Regions from separate parts of the Homo sapiens genome. Here region 1 is linked to region 2. Evidence: fine-mapped expression QTL. Tissue or cell type: whole blood. Region 2 holds a variant in brackets; the other region holds the start of a gene. All regions are shown on one strand. Distances are from middle to middle.

Region 1 (8,000 bases), 110 kb before region 2:
TGTGTGCATGTGTGTGTGTGTGCGTGTGTGTGTTTCCCTGGCACTCACAGCATCACCATCTGCCAGGCTGGGTGGGGCGCAGATGAGGAAGACCAAGGAAGTTCCACACGACCTGCCTCGCCATGATGAGTGAGCGTGAGCTGCCTCCTGTGTGCCCTGCCTGCCCAGAGATCCCGGGGACATCACCTGGCTGACAAAGTCTGCAGCTGCCAGCAGTCGGCCAGGAATGCCGCATGGCCAGGTGTCTCATACTGGCGTGGGTGTCGTGCGGCCTCACGCGGCCCTTGAGCTATTTCCAGGTGTGGGTATCATCTCCCAGCGAGGTGCTCAGCCCTGGGGTGGGACAGACCGTTTCCTTCTGGCTCCCTGCAGAGCTTGTGGGCCCCTCCACCCACCCTGCAGTCCCCAAACTCCAGGGACTTGGAGGTCCCCAAGGAAAGGACATGGCAGTGGGAGATGATGTCATGAGGGGACTTGGGCAATGGGGAGGAACACATGGCCAAGCTGGGAGGAAGAATAAGTTCATTCTCAGAGCAACGAGATTATGTGAACATGGTAAACCCAAGTGTTCTTTTTAAGTGAGATTACTGGGAAACAAAGCTGAAACTGTTCCTTCTGTGTGTGTGTGTGTGTGTGTGTGTGTGTGTGTGTGTGTGTGTGTGTTTGGGTGTCCTTCACTGTCTCCCTCCCCACTCCCGGCCTGCTTCTTCCTTCCCCAGCTTGGAATCCACGGTTGAGGCTGGTCAGGAACCATCAGGACCCAGCATGGGTAATGGCAGCTGCTGGTGCCCTAGCCCCCACTGGGTCCTACAGTAGCTGCTTGTTGGGGAAGGGGCCTGAAAAGGTGGGAGCAGAAGGAAGCCAGGGTCTTGGGGCCGTGGGCTGCCACAGCCACCACAGAAACACTCCAACTTCTCCCAGCCCTAGCAAACCAGTGGAGGTGTGTGCTGGTGCTTTGTTCCTGGGGTGGCTTGGGGCCGCCTGGCTGCCTCTCCCGAGCCTGGCCCTCACCCAGGAGGCCACACCAGCCTCGAGTGCCCACCTCCGTCCAGAGCCCCAGCTCCCCACTCCTGGGGGCTGAGCCAAGAACCCTGTGGCTGTCCCACCGTCGCCTCCCAGAGGCTTGTCCGGCGCAACAGGACAAGGAAGGACTAAGGCTTAGAGTCGGCCCGATCAGGTGACGCCTGAGCTGTCACCGCTGTCACCACTTACACACAGGGTGTGTGGACAAAGTGGTGCGTGCCAGGGAGGGCTAAGTGACCGAGGGCAGGCACGTGGCAGGCTCCTGAAGGTGGAGGTGGCGCTGACAATGGCCACCAGTGAGCAGGGCCCTGTGTGTGCTGGGGCTGACTCCAACCCCTTGGCGCTGCCACGCAGGGGCTTGGGAGGGCCCCTCCCCAGGCACATGGGAGGTGGCCCCTCCCTGACCACGGAGCCATCGTGTCTGCAGAGGCCCACCCTGCGCCCTGTGCTGCTGCCTGGGGCCAGAAGAATAAGTCGATGTGAAATGGCTTTTTCTTTCCTCACCCCCCTTTGGGAGTCAGGCCCGTTAGGAATGGAAGGGGCTGTGCTCCTGGTCCCCTGGGGGAGTGAGCTTCCCGGACTCTTGGGGGGATCTGGTAAGGTGGATGGTGGGAGGCTCGAGGGTGTCCAGAGCCTGATGGGAGGGGGTGGCAGTGGAGGGTCATCCCTCCAGGGTCTCCCTTCTGGATGTGGACACCACATGTCAGGCCTGTCACCTGGCCTTGTCACACTCCATCTCTGGGTCCCCTTCATAGGTTTTCTCGACAGGAGAATCAGGTCCCTGGATAGGAGGAGACGCCCCTCTGTGCAGTGTGGTGGGGATGTACCCCCAATCCAGCCAGGACCCACTGCAGGGGCCCAGCAGGGGCAGGCACGAGTGTGAGAGCAACATGACCCCAGCAGCTCTCGCTGTGTGCCAGGCACATGGACACGCACCACACAAACCCCACCGTGTGCCAGGCACACGGACAAGCACCGCACAAACCCCACTGTGAGCCACTAGGCACATGGACAAGCACTGCACAAACCCCACTGTGTGCCAGGCACATGGACAAGCACCGCAGAAACCCCACGCCTCAGTGACCCTCCACACCTTGCGGGACGGGCAGCCCTCAGGTGACAGAACCGAGGCTCAGAGAGGGAAAGCAACTTGTGCCAGGTCACACAGCCTCATAGCCCAGCTCGGCCTAACAAAGCCAGAGCCCTCGGGGGTGCAGGTTTCCCCACAAGTTCTGATATAATGTTGGGGCTCTCCCGGCCCAGGGACACAAGCTCCCAGCTCTCTGCATCAAGGAAGGAGACCAGGAGAAGCTCCCCCAGCAATGACAGCTACGAGGCTGCAAATCTCTCCCTCCCTCCACCATTTGTGCAATGTCTTTTGTCCCCACTTCTCTTCACCAGCCTCCCACCACTAACCCAGGGGACCCACAAGGGGCTCACAGTGTTGGTGTGGACCCTCTGTGGGCCTCCTGATGGCAGCAGCGCCTGGGGAAAGAGGGCTGAGCTGAGGCCTGGCACAGGCAGGGCCCCCAGCAGCCCCTGCCCTTACAATGGGATGCTGGCTCAGGTGCCCGAAGCCCAAAGGAGGTGGCCCGGAAGGTTGGAGCTTCAATCGAAGGCCTGTTCTCTGCCCGCAGCCAGGCCCAGGGCTGTGGCAAAGGAGGGTGGTGCCCCAGCCAACACCACTGTCCCTGCCGGCCAGCAGCCACGGCCCCGGCTGGAAGGGAGCAAGGCTCTGCCTGGCTTCTGTGGTCTTTGGGGGAGGGCACGTGGGCCCAGCAGGCAGCTTGCGCTGCGCTCAGGGCACAGATGGTTCTCATTCCCGTTGCCTCCCTTACACAGGAAAAACAAACCAGCCCGGGGCCAACAGACCCCTTTTTAACCTCGTGTTTATTTTCCTTCCCATGCTTGAAAACGCTGACTGTCCTGTGGGCGGCAGCTGCTGAGGGTCTTGCCAGGACGGCACTTTCCTGACCTCAGGGCAGCTCTCCCAGGGAGGGGCTGGGGTGCACGGAGGGGCCCCGAAGGAATGCAGCCCATTTCCTGCTCCTGGACTTCTCCGAGTCATACCCGGGGTCGCAGCTGCCTTTCAAGGGCCTGGAGTCTCCTGACACCACCGGAAGGCCCAGGATGCTGTCGGGGGCAGGACAGAACCCGGGGAGGCCGGCTGTGGGCCTCGCTGGCTGCGGAGAACCCCCCAAGCCATCGGGAGCTGAGGGTGGGTGGAGGGGAAGCCACGTCACACCACATAGGCCCACAGGGCTCCAAGAATTCAGAGGAGGAGGAGGAGGCGGTAGGGGCTGGGGTCCCGGGACCCCGGGTGGGCACAGCCTACTGTGCCACCTGCATCCTCCCTAAGCCTGCACAGTGCCCAGGAGGAAGGAAGGGGCAGGCTGCATCCCCATTCCGGGGGAGCTTGGGAGGGGAATGTGGCCACCCAGGGTCTCAGAGGTGGGGGGCTTACCAACCGTCCCACAGGCCAAGCAGAGCCTGTATTTGTCATCGGTGCCCCAGGTTTCTCTAAAGCAGGCAGACAGCATCCCCACGGCCTGCGCCCCATGGCCCAAGGCAGAAGTTTGGAGAAGGGGGCAAAGCCACGTTGGGGCTGCACAGAAGAGGAGGGTAGGACCCCCGAGGCGTAGGGCGCCCACCAAGAAAGGCAAGGAGGCCTCAGCAGCCCCTCCCCACGTGGGTGAGGCTGCGGGGCTCACCAGGCGGCCTGTGGATGAAAGGAGCCCAGAGGCCAGTGTGGCTGCACTGTGACCCAGGGACCCCCGCGGGCCCTCAGAAGTCCCCAGGGGACCAGCAGCAAGGCCAGGCCCAGGCCCTCTCCCCTGCATTCCCTGGGGTGGGGTGGGCTGGGGCCCACACCCCCTCCCCCCTCCCCCCTCCCCGGGGACTGCCCGCCTCACGGCGCCCCTCCCCCCGCGTCCGCCCCGCCCCCCGCAGAGGGAGGCACGCGGCGGTGGCCGCCCGGTCCGCGCCCCCTCCCCGCGCGGGCGGCGGTGACATCACGGCCACGGCGGCGGGAGGGGCGGCGGCGCCCCGCGCACATCACTTCCTCGGCGCCTCCCCGGGGGAGGACGGGCGAACGAGGCGCGGACGGACAGGCGGACAGCAGGGCGGACAGCAGGGAGGACAGCAGGGCGGGCAGGGGGCGGACGGCCACGGCGCGGGGGGCGCTCCCGGCTCCCGCTCCCGCGTCCCCGACCCATGGCGGGCCCGGCCCCGCCCGCGGCCGACGAGCTCCCGGGCCCGGCCGCCAGGCGCCTCTACTCCAGGTAGGACGGGCCGGGGCCGGGGCCGGGGCCGGGGCTGGGACCGGACCGGGCCGGGTCGGGACGCGGGGGAGGCTGCAGTTGGGAACAAAGGCAGCTCTCGCGGGCGCGCAGCGTGGCTGAGGACGCGCCCCTCCCTCCAGGCCGAGCCCAGCCCGGCGTGTGCCCGCGTGGGCGTCCCCTGAAGCCCTCTTTCCCCCAAGCCAAGGGGAAGGGGGTGGGGGGCCGGGGGGCTGGAGGCGGGGTGGGCAGCTTCTCCAGCCTCACTCCCCTGGCACCTGGCAGGGGCACCGTGGGGTGCTTCCCTCCCAAGCCTGGCCCTGCCATGCCCGGGGCACTCAGGGGCATCATGGCCAAAGAGACCTGGCTGCTCTGGATGGGGCTCTGCCCCTCACCAGCCCTCCACGAGCCCAGTGGGATCCAGCTGGGTTGGAAGGGAGCCAGCCAGGTGGGTGTGTACCTGCCTGAAAAGGCATCTACTCTCCGGGCACATTCCTGGGTGATCCCAGTGACTGGGCTCTGTGCCCCACGCCTTTGGGGATGACAGGGTGGCCCTGCCCCAGGTGGCATGCCTGCCTGGTGACTCCCAATGTCCCCCCAGGGGCTGCCCTGGGCCCAGCCGGGCAGGTGCCTGGAGCCCCAAGCAAGGCTGGGTGGTACCAGGCCTCAGGCAGAGCCACACGAGCGTGAGGTCCAGGCAGGGGCTTGCGAATGGGTGGCAGCCGTCAGAGGCAGGCCTGGCTCCCCAGAGCGAGGGACACTATTGTCCTCTGGACATCCCTAAAACCTGGTGACCTCCCTGATAGGGGTCCCAGCAGCTGATCCCGGGGGGCGCCTAGCCTGGCCCCCAAGGATTCTCTGGCCCCAGCCAAGCAGCAAGCCTCTGCCTGGGGCACCCGAAATGAGGTACTGGTGGCGGCACGGCGGACAGAGGCCTTGCTGCCTCCGGTCTGCTCTCTGCTTTGGTCCCAGACACAGCCCCATTGTGCCGTCCTGGATGGAGCGCTGAGCCCCTAGCCTGGCTCCTGGGCCCCACGCAGGGGAGGGGCGTGAGGGTGATTTTGCTGGCAGCTGCTGCCAGGGGCCTGCCCTAAAGGATTTTCAAGGGTTTCCTCCGCTGATCTGATCGGCTGTGCAGGGCCGCATGTGCTCCAGGGCGGCCGTGCTGTGAGGGGGATGGATAGCAGCCCTGGCTGGAGTGAGTTTGAGTGTGAGTGTGTGGAGCTGTGAGAGAGTGTGTGTGTGGAGCTGTGAGAGACGGGTGTCCAAGACCTTAGCCTTGGGTGAGGCCTGCACAGCTGACCATAGAGTTGGGCATTCTCCAGGCTACAGCTAGAAGCCTGGGGTCCCCTGGGGACACGCCAGGCAGGAGCCAGCCCCTGGCAGGGGCAGTGCTCAGGGGGACCACTCAGAGAGACCCCAGACCCAGCCTTGCATCCCCCTAAGCAGGGAGTCCAGTTGAGCTCCAGGGTGGAGTCAGGCCCAGACTTGGGGGAAGCGCGCCAAGCCCTCCAGCAGGGCCTGTGACGAGGTCCCCCCGGGAGTCTGCACCCCACCGTGTAGCCACAGCCCGGTTTGGGCAGGCGGTTCCTGGTCGGAGCTGGCTTCAGAGCATGGATGCCTAGACGTGTTCTGGGCCAGTGGAAGCTGCGGGCCAGACGGGAGGGCCCTTTGCTGTCATGCTGGGGCTGGAGAGCAAGACACGGAAAAGTCTCCTGTCTCCTGAAACCCGAGTGCTGGGGGCGGCCCACCTGCTGGCGTGGGCGGTGGGCATGTGGATGCCCTGGAGGTGGGCGGAATCCGTGTGGGCACTCCTCACGTGGCTGTACTGGGGTCCCTCAATGTGGATGGGGCTCCAGGTTGGCCCAAGGTCTCCTCTGCCCCGTCTACTGCCTTCCCACACTGACATTCCTTCCTGGAGAGAGGAGTTTCAGCTTTTAAAATGGGGAACTGTGCCTGGAAAACACACTGACAGCGAGGCCCATGAATGTGCCCATGAGCCCACTGGGTACCCTGAGGGGCCCTGGGTGCTGGGTCGGTGGGGACGGGCCCCTGGGTTCTGGGTCGGTGGGGACGGGGCCCTGGGTGCTGGGTCGGTGGGGACGGGCCCCTGGGTGCTGGGTCGGTGGGGACGGGGCCCTGGGTGCTGGGTCGGTGGGGACGGGCCCCTGGGTGCTGGGTCGGTGGGGACGGGCCCTTGGGTTCTGGGTCAGTGGGGATGGGCCCTGGGTGCTGGGTCGGTGGGGACAGGGCCCTGGGTGCTACAGTTAATGCTCAGAATTCTGGCCCACTTGCCAGGGGCTCCCTGGCCCAGAGCAGGGCTTTGGGGTGAAGAGGCCTGGCGGGGACAGGCCAGTGGCTGAGAAGGCCCCGGAAAGTGGGGAAACCCTGGGTGGTCGTCTCCTGGCCTCCCACCTGCTTTAAGGCCAGCTGAGTGCTCCCCGGGGCTGGGGCCGGGAAGGGGCAGCAGAGCCACCCACCTTGGGGTGACCCTGTTAGAGATGCCCTCCAAGCAGCAGTCACCAGCTCCCAGACAGGACGTCCTCAGGTGTGGACTGGGCCCCCCGCAACCTCTCTGGCCACATGGCCATGCTACCCCCTACCTTCACTCCATCCTTCCTCCCTCCCCTGTCCCCGTCCTGGGCACCATCCCTGGTGGGTCGCTGGGCAGCGACGGGCCCTAGGAATTCCTGGCAAGCCTGACCCCAGGTGCTTCCTACAGCTGGGTGACCTTCAGTCCCCTCTCCAGTGATTCCAGCTCCCGCTGTGCTCCCAGCCCGGTCCTGCGCCTCACTCTCTCCCCTCCCCTGGCCACTGAAGGGGAGTCGGTGTGGTTTTCCCTGGGGGTGTCTGGCTGGGGGATGGGGCAGATAGAGCCAGCTGTGAGCAGAGTCTCTTCAGCATCTGCTCAGGGGCCAGCATGTAGGTGACGGCCTTGGGGAGGGGCAGGTGCCAATTCTGTTAGCAGGGCTGGGACTGAGGGACACGGCTTTCGGGTGGCCGGAGGTAGTAGGAGTTGCAGTGCTGGCTTGGGAACTGGCCTTGGTGATGGCACCCCAGCCACCACGGAGGGTCTGAGGGTTCAGTCTGTTGACGAGGACTGGGCAAGGGAGAGGCATTCTAGGTCCTGCCCCGCCTTTGGCCAAGCTGTCCTGAAGGTGGACAAATGGTCTGGCCTGAGTAGGACCCCTGAGCCCACAAGGCCTCAAGGTAAGGAGGAGAGAGCCCAGGGCCTGAAGACCCCCACCTGTCCTTGGATTCCTGCCTCTGCTCAGACCCCGTGGCCGTCTCAGGGATAAGACCTGCCCCCCCAGTCCCCCGCCTCTGTCAGGTTCCAGCCTCCTCATGGGCCACAGGTGGCTGGAGAAGCTGGGAGCCCAGCTGAGAAGGACGCCGGGGGCTTGGGAAGTTTGAGGAAAGGAGCCAGGCTAGGGGAACGTGGTCCATGCCTCCCAAGCCCCACGACCTGGGGAGCGGCATCCCCCAGGCCCCACGTGGCCCTGACCCCGTCAGACCTGGGGCCCTGTTCGCACCTTGGCCAGTCAGGTGAGGGAGAGCACAGAGGGCCCGGCAGACGTGGGGCTGGCATGGTGAGGACTCTGAGCCCCCCCCCCCCGCTGCCCCATGCTGGCACCGTGGGCTGGTGCCAGGGAGGCTGGGGAGGGGGCCAGGTGGGGTCGGGTGGAGCAGAGGAGGCAC
Region 2 (8,000 bases):
ACGAGTCTGTCCAACGACCACCCCTGTATGACCCTCCCGTCACCATGACCCCAGCCCGTGCTGCCCACCCTGTCCCTGAGCCACCCCTACGCGTGCCCCGCTGGCCGCCCTCCCGCTCACCTTGAGCAGGTGATTCTCGGCCAGGCCCGTTGCCCCAACCCCCTCCCCTACTTTCTGCAGCCACGTGGCCAGGGAGGTGCAGGTGGGAGCTCTGGGGGATGGGGGTCCTTACCCACTCTCACCCTCCTGTACTGCGGTTAGCAGTGGGGTGCACCTCGGGGCTCTGCCCTCCTGGCCCCAGGATGAGGCACAGAGCTGCCCCGTCCCCCTCACCCGCCTTTGTCCAGCACCACCCCACCCTTCCCCGCCCAGCACCACCCACAGCCACTCACCTTCTGGCCCTGCATGTTCCAGGTGGCCACGAAGAGTGCCACGTTCCGGTCTGGGAAGTAGCGGGCCAGCTCATCCGCCCCCAACAGGGCCCCGCTGGCCAGGAGGCTGCCCTCCAGGTAACTCCTGTGACGGGAGGACCCCAAGCTCAGGGCCAGGCACAGGACACATCCCTGGGGGTCTGGGCCAGGTCCCCAGGGACAATAGCAAAACCCATGGAATGTCAGGAGCTGCCCCCAGCCCCAAGCAAGGACTCTCCTGGCCCCCGCGGCACTGCTGTCTGCTCTCCAGGAACACAAGGCCTGACCTGGTTGCACAAACACCCAGAGCGGGTTCACACCCCCTCCCTACCTCCCGGGAAGAGGCATGAGAGGGTGACGGTTTGGGCTTTTTGGTGGTGGGATCCTGGAAAAGCCACAGAGAGGAGCTCCCAAACTATAAGCCAAGGCAGTGGGCACAGGGTGCTGTTCGGGGAGGGGCTGGTCCTCCTCCTTTCTCCTTTGGCCCCAGCACCAGGCAGGACGGTCTAAGATACAGAGACCACACGAGCCACACGGAAACGCGTCCATCTCCTCGACACCCCGTGGCTTTGACGCACTTTTGGGTTTGCTTGTTTTGGTTTCTAGTGGGGACAGGGTCTCACTCCGTGCCCAGGCTGGAGTGCAGTGGCACTAACACAGCTCCCTGCAGCCTCTACCTCCCGGGCTCAAGTGATCCTCCTGCCTCAGCCTCCCGAGTAGCTGGGACTCCAGGTGCAGTGCCACCACGCCCGGCTAGTTATTTATTTATTTTTTATTTTTGTAGAAACAGGGTCTCGCCACGTTGTCCAGGCTGATGCTTTCAGATTTTAATACGGCGGTGCACACAGATGGTTAAACACCGTGTGGCACAGCAACGTCCCTGCCCCTCCCCACACTCAGCACCTTCTGCCACGAGGGCTGGTAACCCGTCAAGAGGCAACCGCACACGCCTGCCGCTCCGTGGGACATCCAGTGTCTGTCGCCGTGGGCTCTGCTACGGTGGTGCAAGAGCCACCAGGGGATGTGGACACAAGGGGTGCAGCCGTGTGCCCGAGACGCTTGATTTACAGACACTGAAATCTGAATTTTACAATTTTCTTGTACTATGAAACATCATTAGAATGGTTTTGACTTTTTCCAACCATTTGGAAATGTAAAACCCGTTCTCAGCTCGCCGACTATACAGAAACGCCGTGGGCTAGGCTTGCCAGCCGTCCTCCCCGCTCCCTCTCTAAGTAACACTTGTGCGGCTCCTTCTGGATACGCCGTCTTCTGACATGGTTCCCTTCCGCAAGGGGACACGAGAGCATAGTGCCGGATTCCTGTGACCTCCCGCGAGAACTTCTTCAACCCTGGCTGCGGCTCACCAAGCTTCACTGGACACGTTAAATCATGTCAGCAGGGAGGAACCTCGCTACCTCACCCCTAAAACTGTCGACAATCCCGGTCGGGACAGCTGTGTTCACACAGTGGTCATTCGGGACAGAGAGCGTTCCTGTGGGCACCCCTGTCAAGTGATCCCGGGCCCAGCAGGGGCTCCTCGGTCACCAGGCTGGAGGCCCACGGCCCCTTTGCCGGCAGCGCCCATCATGTCCACACCAGCAGCCACGTGGTCAGTCTGCCCAGCTCTGTCCAGAGCATGGTTAGTAACAGCAGGCCAGGGGCGGCCCTCACAGCCATTCCTGTGTCTAGACACGGGCAGGGGCAGAGCTGCCTCGGACCCCCATCCAGGGCCAGGACACTGCACAGCTTCTGCATGAGGACGCTCAGGCTGGCTGCCACAGCCTGGGCCAGCTCTCCGAGCAAAAGGAACGGGTGGGGAAAGGCCCCCTAACCCGCCCTGGCAGCCCCAAGGCACTGGCAAAAGCCAGCAGCCATTCTCAAACAGGGCGGACCCAGCCCGTGCACACGCGGCCCGCAAACTCAGAATGGGTTTTACTGTGTGGAACGGCAGAGAAAGAAAAAAGAGCGAGGTTCCAATGTATGTCCCTAATAGACTCACTGGCACACAGACGCCCTTTGGTCCCCACTGTCTGTGTCTCCCCCTTGACAGAAAGAGTGCGCCGACTCCTATTCTAGAACAGACCGGAGGTCTGGAAATGGGAAGCTGTTAGGCAGCAGAACTGGGTTAAAGGATCCACGTCAACCCTCGTTTCCTGGTTGTTTGAAAACAATGACTTGAGGGTCCAAATTTGAGACACGACTGTCCTTTTCTCTAACAGGTGTATCTACGTCAACCGGATCTAATTTTAAAATGTGATGCTTTAGATGCACTAAGAAATCTCACTCTTTACGAGAAGCCCTGCAGTGAATTATTTTAACAAAAGCAGCAGTCTTGCCCTGGATGTGATCGCACCTGCTCCATCCATGACAGGAGGAGAGTATGGTGGGGGCGCCAGGCACGGGCCCTCACTCCAGGCCTGAGCCCACCTGCCTGCTGGTGCACCACAGACGCGGGGAAGTGAGGCTACCTTCGGGGACTGTGGTGAGCTGAACAGTGATCCCCAAAGCCATGTCCACTCCCAGAGCCCCAGAACCTTGGAATGGGACCTTATTCGGAAACGGGGTCTTTGCAAACGTGTTTAATTAAGGATCTCGAGATAAGACCACCCTGGATTTAGGGTAGGCAGTAAATTCAATGACTGGTGTCCTTATAAAAAGAGAGGGGAACACAGAGAGACAGGGAAGAGGCCACATAAAGACAGAGGCAGAGACTGGAGCATGCGGCCACAAGCCAAGGAACAAGTGGGGCCCCAGGAGCGGGAGGCAGCGGGAGGACCCTCCCCTGAGCCTCTGGAGAGAGGCTGCGTGGCCACACCTTGATTTTAGACTTCTGGCCTCTAGAACTGGGAGAGAGTCCAGCTCTGCTGTTGCAAGCCTCCCAGTCTGTGGTCATGAGTTACAACGGCCCCAGGACACCAACACAGAAACCACCTCACACCTCTCCCTTCTCACACCTGTCCTGCCTCCCGCCGCGGCTGACAGACAAGACTTGGGCACCATGGCAGTGGGGTGGGGGGAGGAAAAGAAGGGTGCAGGTGACTCTGCCAAGTCATAGTGGGAGCATCTCAGGACAGGCCCCCAGACTGAGACCCCAAGACAAGACCAGGCTTGGGAGAGGTCATGGGTTCAGCTGCAGTTCCTTCCAGCAACAGCTGGAGCCCACCAAAATGTTCCTCATGAGCAAGTGGCTAAACGAAAGTAGCCTCAACACATCTGGGGCCTCTTGCCGCAGAAAAAAACAAAGGGGGCAGGCCGGGCGCAGTGGCCCACGCCGGGAATCCCAGCACTTTGGGAGGCCGAGGCCAGGAGTTCGAGACCAGCCTCGCCAACACGGCGAAACCCCGCCCCTACTAAAAATACAAAATTTAGCTGGGTGTGGTGGCGGGCGCCTGTAATCCCAGATTCTCAGGAGGCTGCGGCAGGAGGATCCCTTGAACCCAGGAGGCAGAGGTTGCAGTGAGCCGGGATCGCGCCGCTGCACTCCAGCCTGGGCGACAGAGAGAGTAACAAACAAAAACAACCAAAGGGGCGGATCGTATACATTGACGACATTTCCCAAGACTAAACAAGAAAAAGCGCCAGATACGTAATTGTATGCAGGATGCCATCCTGTCTACCTTAACACAACGTCACGCCCACGAATGGTTCTGAAACGCACAGGAAAAGTTCTGGGAAGGGCGCTGCTGTGGGGTGGGGCTGGGAGATGGGGTGGCTGCGGGAGACCCGCTTCGTTCTTTCCGGTTAGGCATCTTAAACGCTGCTGATGGGAACGGTCTCACGAGGTTCCAGCAGCCTGAACACTACAACGAAGGCGGCGCGGGCGCTGCACCCGCCAG[GCCCT/G]CCCTACCTGCTGCGGACGTCCTTGCTGCGGATGGGCGCCAGGAGGCTGAAGGAGGATTTGGCCGAGCGAAGGGAACAGTCGTCGCAGGCCAGGGGGCTCCGCGGCCGGCCGGGGCCCAGGCTGCTGTGGGCCCGCACCAGGAGCGGCTGCGCGCGGAGCTTGTAGTCTGCAAGATCCGAGTCGACCTTGTTTGCTGTCCTCAGGGAGTCGGAGGCGATGTCCAGGCTCAGGGCAGGCGGTGGGCGCGGGGGCAGCAGGCTGGGCAGCCTGGGCGAGCTCCCCGCCACGGCGGCGTCTCTGTGCGGGAGGTTCGGGGAGCTGCTGGCCACCCCAGAGAGAGGGTTACCCCCCGAGGACGGGCTCCCTCTCTCACTGCTCAGGACCCCGCGGGACTTGGGGATTTCCTGCAAGGAGGTGCTCAGGCAGGGCGGGGAGCAGCTGTGGGCGGGGGCCCCGGGGCCCTCGCTCTGCACTGAGCCCCTGGAGGGACTGGTCCCATTCCGGGCTTCCAGGTCCTCCTGGCTGCCTCGAAAACGCCTCCTCCTCCAGCCCTTGTCGTCCAGGGACAGGGCTCGCTCCAGTCGAGGCCTGGCGGGGGGCCGCGGGGCGATGGGTGCTGCTCGGGCTGGCGGGTCCTCGCCGCTGGGCGTGGCCGGAGTGCTGCAGGCAAGCGCGGGGCTCTCGGAGCCCGGAGCATCGGGTGGGGACCCCGCGCGCTGGGCCGGCGGAGCGCCGGGAAGCTGTCCTTGGAGCGTCCTCCCTTCCGGCGGCTGCGGGGCCGGCTCGGAGGGCCGCAGATTCTCCGCCTTGGACGGCATGGACGGTCTCTCCCGGGGCAGGCCTCGGCGCGAGGCCGCAGGCAGCGCGAGGGGTCACGGGTGCCGGGTCCGGGGTCGCCGGCGCAGCGAGGAGCAGAAACGCCGCTGCGGCTCCCGCTTGGGCCGGGGATGGTCGCGGAGGGGCGGGGGCGGCTGCCGCATGGCCCGGGCCCCGAGTCCCGCCAGCCCCTCGGGGCTCCCAGACGCCGTTCCCAGGGCGGTCCGCAGGCAAGGCCTGGGGGAACAGGCGGCTGGGCGCCTGTCGCGGGGGAGGTTCGACCCCGACGGGGACGCCGCTCGGGGAGAGGGGTGGGAAGCGGGCACCCCTGGCTGGGCTCGCAGACTCCGAAGTCGACCCGGTACTCGCGGAGGCCCGGCCGCCCAGAAGCGGAGTCAGCCCGGCCGGGACCCAGCAACCGCCGCCGCGGGGCCGCGCCCGGTCCCCGCCCCGCGCCCCGGCCCCGCCCACAGCGGCCCCTGGCGGCCGGAGGACTGCGCCGCACCGGACCCGGACGGGTCTCCCACGCCCCTCCCAACCCGGCAGCCCCGCAGTCCGGCAGGTCCCAGCGAGGCAGGTGCAGGTCCCCGGAGAGGACCTGGGTGCGGTCCAGGACAGCGCCGAGGCCTGCGGACACCTGCACTCACTCGCTTCCAGCAAACCAAAGGGAACCACAGGTGAAGGTGCTTGAAGGAGCGCAAAATATTTTATTCAACAATTTGCAATGTAACAATTCTCATTTAGGAAAAATAGCCGCTCCCGCCTGGAGGAAGCTTCTTGAATCAAAAGTCGTGGCAGTCGACCCCAGAACAGCGGGCAGAGCCGACCGGAAGAGGTCCCAGGATTCACACGAGCTGACCGAGGGACAGAGAGGGCTGCCCCGTCACAGGGACTGGCCTTTCTCCAAGTGACAAGGACAAATGGATCCAGCGGGACACGCCTGTGGAACATTTTGGAAAACATCCTGGGTGGTCTGGGCTAAATGATCAAGTGAAACAGAAAGCCAGGAAGGATCTGTGCTAATTCCACATTCTACAATTTCTACACTTAAATTTAAAACACCAAACAGTTTGTATTCCTCCAGCAGAACCTACAGAAATTATCTACTGATTTTTATTAGTATTTAAATCTTTTCTTCAGTCTCTTTAGACTTGACAAGAATACGAAGAGTTTCAGAACAGTCAGAGAAGCCTTAAAGCTTTGCATCAGTGAGAGGAGGCCCGTCTCTGAGTTGAACAGGGTTGAGTCCACCAGGAGCTACTCAAAGTCTCAGTGTGGCAAAACTCGGGGCAGAAATACTAAGTTCCAGAGCTGCTGTCAAGAAACTGTGTTAAGATACTCTCCCCAAGTGCTACCAACCTCTGAACCAACGTCCCCCAGGGGAGAAAGTGGGTCATGTGGATTGTACCACGAAAAGTGCTCACGGAAAGTGCAGCCTTTTAGAGAAGTGCATCCAGCTTCCTTAACAGTGAGTCTAACCGTGCTCCTACACACGAAATGAAGCCCAAATCAAACATCACACGGTCAGTTTTCAACCTGGATGACCACCCTGAGCCATCATGTCAGACAGCCGGCTCTCTGGGGCTCCTTCCCAGTGACTGGGCCACACGGTGGGCAGTCCCCAGCGCTTTGGGTACACAAAATCACCCATGGTCCTCATCAGGCCACAGAAAGTAAAGTGAGGCTGGAAGCGTCTTTGCAACAGGAAAGAAATTCACTGCAGTAACTAAGGCCTCTCTCAAAAACCGTGAACTAATGCCGAAGGAACCCCACGGCTCCTCGGAGGCGCTGATTGAGAACACAGCGCCCTCCACTCATTCAGCCAGGTTCAAACACGGCGAGGGCCCAGATGGTGCAGAGCAGGGGTTGGGGTCTGCCTCAGTCACCCTCTCTTTGCTCCCAGCACCTTAAAGGAAGCGCGGGACTCACTGGGCAGTGACTCACAGCTGGGCTTGGAGAGGCCCTGGTTACTACCGACCATGTGGCTCTCCTGTGGCAGAGACAGCTCCGGCTTCAATGAATGAACATTCTTAAATGACCAGGAATACTATATCCTTAAATCATCCTAAATGACTAAGAAAGTCACATCATTCTTTTCGGCAAACAATTCTGAGTCAAAGATTCAGTCTTTCCATCCAGAATCTGAAAGGATGGTGGAATTAATTTTCAAAATAATTCATTACGATGGGCGGTGAGGAGGGAGGCACAGTGTGCGACCAGCTCTGAGTCACTGCTGTGTCTCCCTGGGGGCGGGACGGAGATCGCGGAGGTCGGTCGGGTTCTTCGGGGAGAACAGCAGCGTCAGGGCTCCAAGTGCAAGTTCACAGCAGGGCAAGCCTAGTTCAGCACCAGGTGCTTCCTCTGGCCAATCCTCCCTAGCCTTGAGCTCCCGGAGGTGGCGCAGGCCTGGAATGAAATCAACAGCATGACCTCTGCATGCCTGCCCCCAGGGTGAGCAGTGCTCGGCTGCAGCGTGGCAGGGGCTGGTCCACATAATGAACCACACGGGCCATTGGCGCTGACAAGCTGAAGGCTTCGTTTTTGTTTCCAAAAGCCTCTGGAAACCGACAAGTCAGTGCCAAGTCCTGGGCTCCCTTGAAAGCACTGTATCCTTAACCATCAATGTTTACTGTGAGGGTGGCCAGGAGGTGCCGTGGTTTCATCAGGGCCATGAGACCTGGAGCTGCTCTGCAGAGCCAGCCTGGCTGTCCAGAGTCCAGGGACAAGTGGTGGCCAGGCCTGGCCTACTGCATGGGACGCGGGGACCTCAGTTGCAGACAGCTGGCCAATGCAGGCATCCACTCTTGCTCCCTCGCAAAGCCTCATGGAGGGGAAAGCCAAGGAATTTTTGTAAAGGCACTAACCACATGGTAAAGGGAGCAGGACAATACCAAAATCGACTAGTCTGGATGCTGAAAAGCAGGTGACAG

What was found. PIP is the estimated chance that this variant, and not a neighbour inherited with it, causes the effect.
Region 1: it holds the start of GPSM1, and the variant in region 2 is fine-mapped to the expression of GPSM1 in whole blood (INTERVAL, PIP 0.95).

Annotation. Positions count from the first base shown.
Region 1 is chr9:136,323,460-136,331,459 of GRCh38, forward strand. GPSM1 (G protein signaling modulator 1) reads left to right here and starts at 4,080. Exons shown (of 14, transcript NM_001145638.3): 1 at 4,080-4,304. The coding sequence starts at 4,237. It overlaps DKFZP434A062 (a long non-coding RNA gene), which reads right to left and starts at 3,864. Exons shown (of 1, transcript NR_026964.3): 1 at 1-3,864. RefSeq lists enhancers at 457-1,083, 1,084-1,712, 4,242-4,771, 4,772-5,300 and a silencer at 2,914-3,208.
Region 2 is chr9:136,434,348-136,442,347 of GRCh38, forward strand. INPP5E (inositol polyphosphate-5-phosphatase E) reads right to left here and starts at 5,498. Exons shown (of 10, transcript NM_019892.6): 1 at 4,261-5,498; 2 at 393-516. The coding sequence starts at 5,072. It overlaps SEC16A (SEC16 homolog A, endoplasmic reticulum export factor), which reads right to left. Exons shown (of 32, transcript NM_014866.2): 32 at 5,758-7,476. The coding sequence ends at 7,408. RefSeq lists enhancers at 1,657-2,165, 3,702-4,335, 4,277-4,386, 4,336-4,970, 4,971-5,604 and silencers at 4,677-5,166, 5,227-5,406, 5,457-5,656. The variant GCCCT/G (reference allele first, on the strand shown) is at 4,250.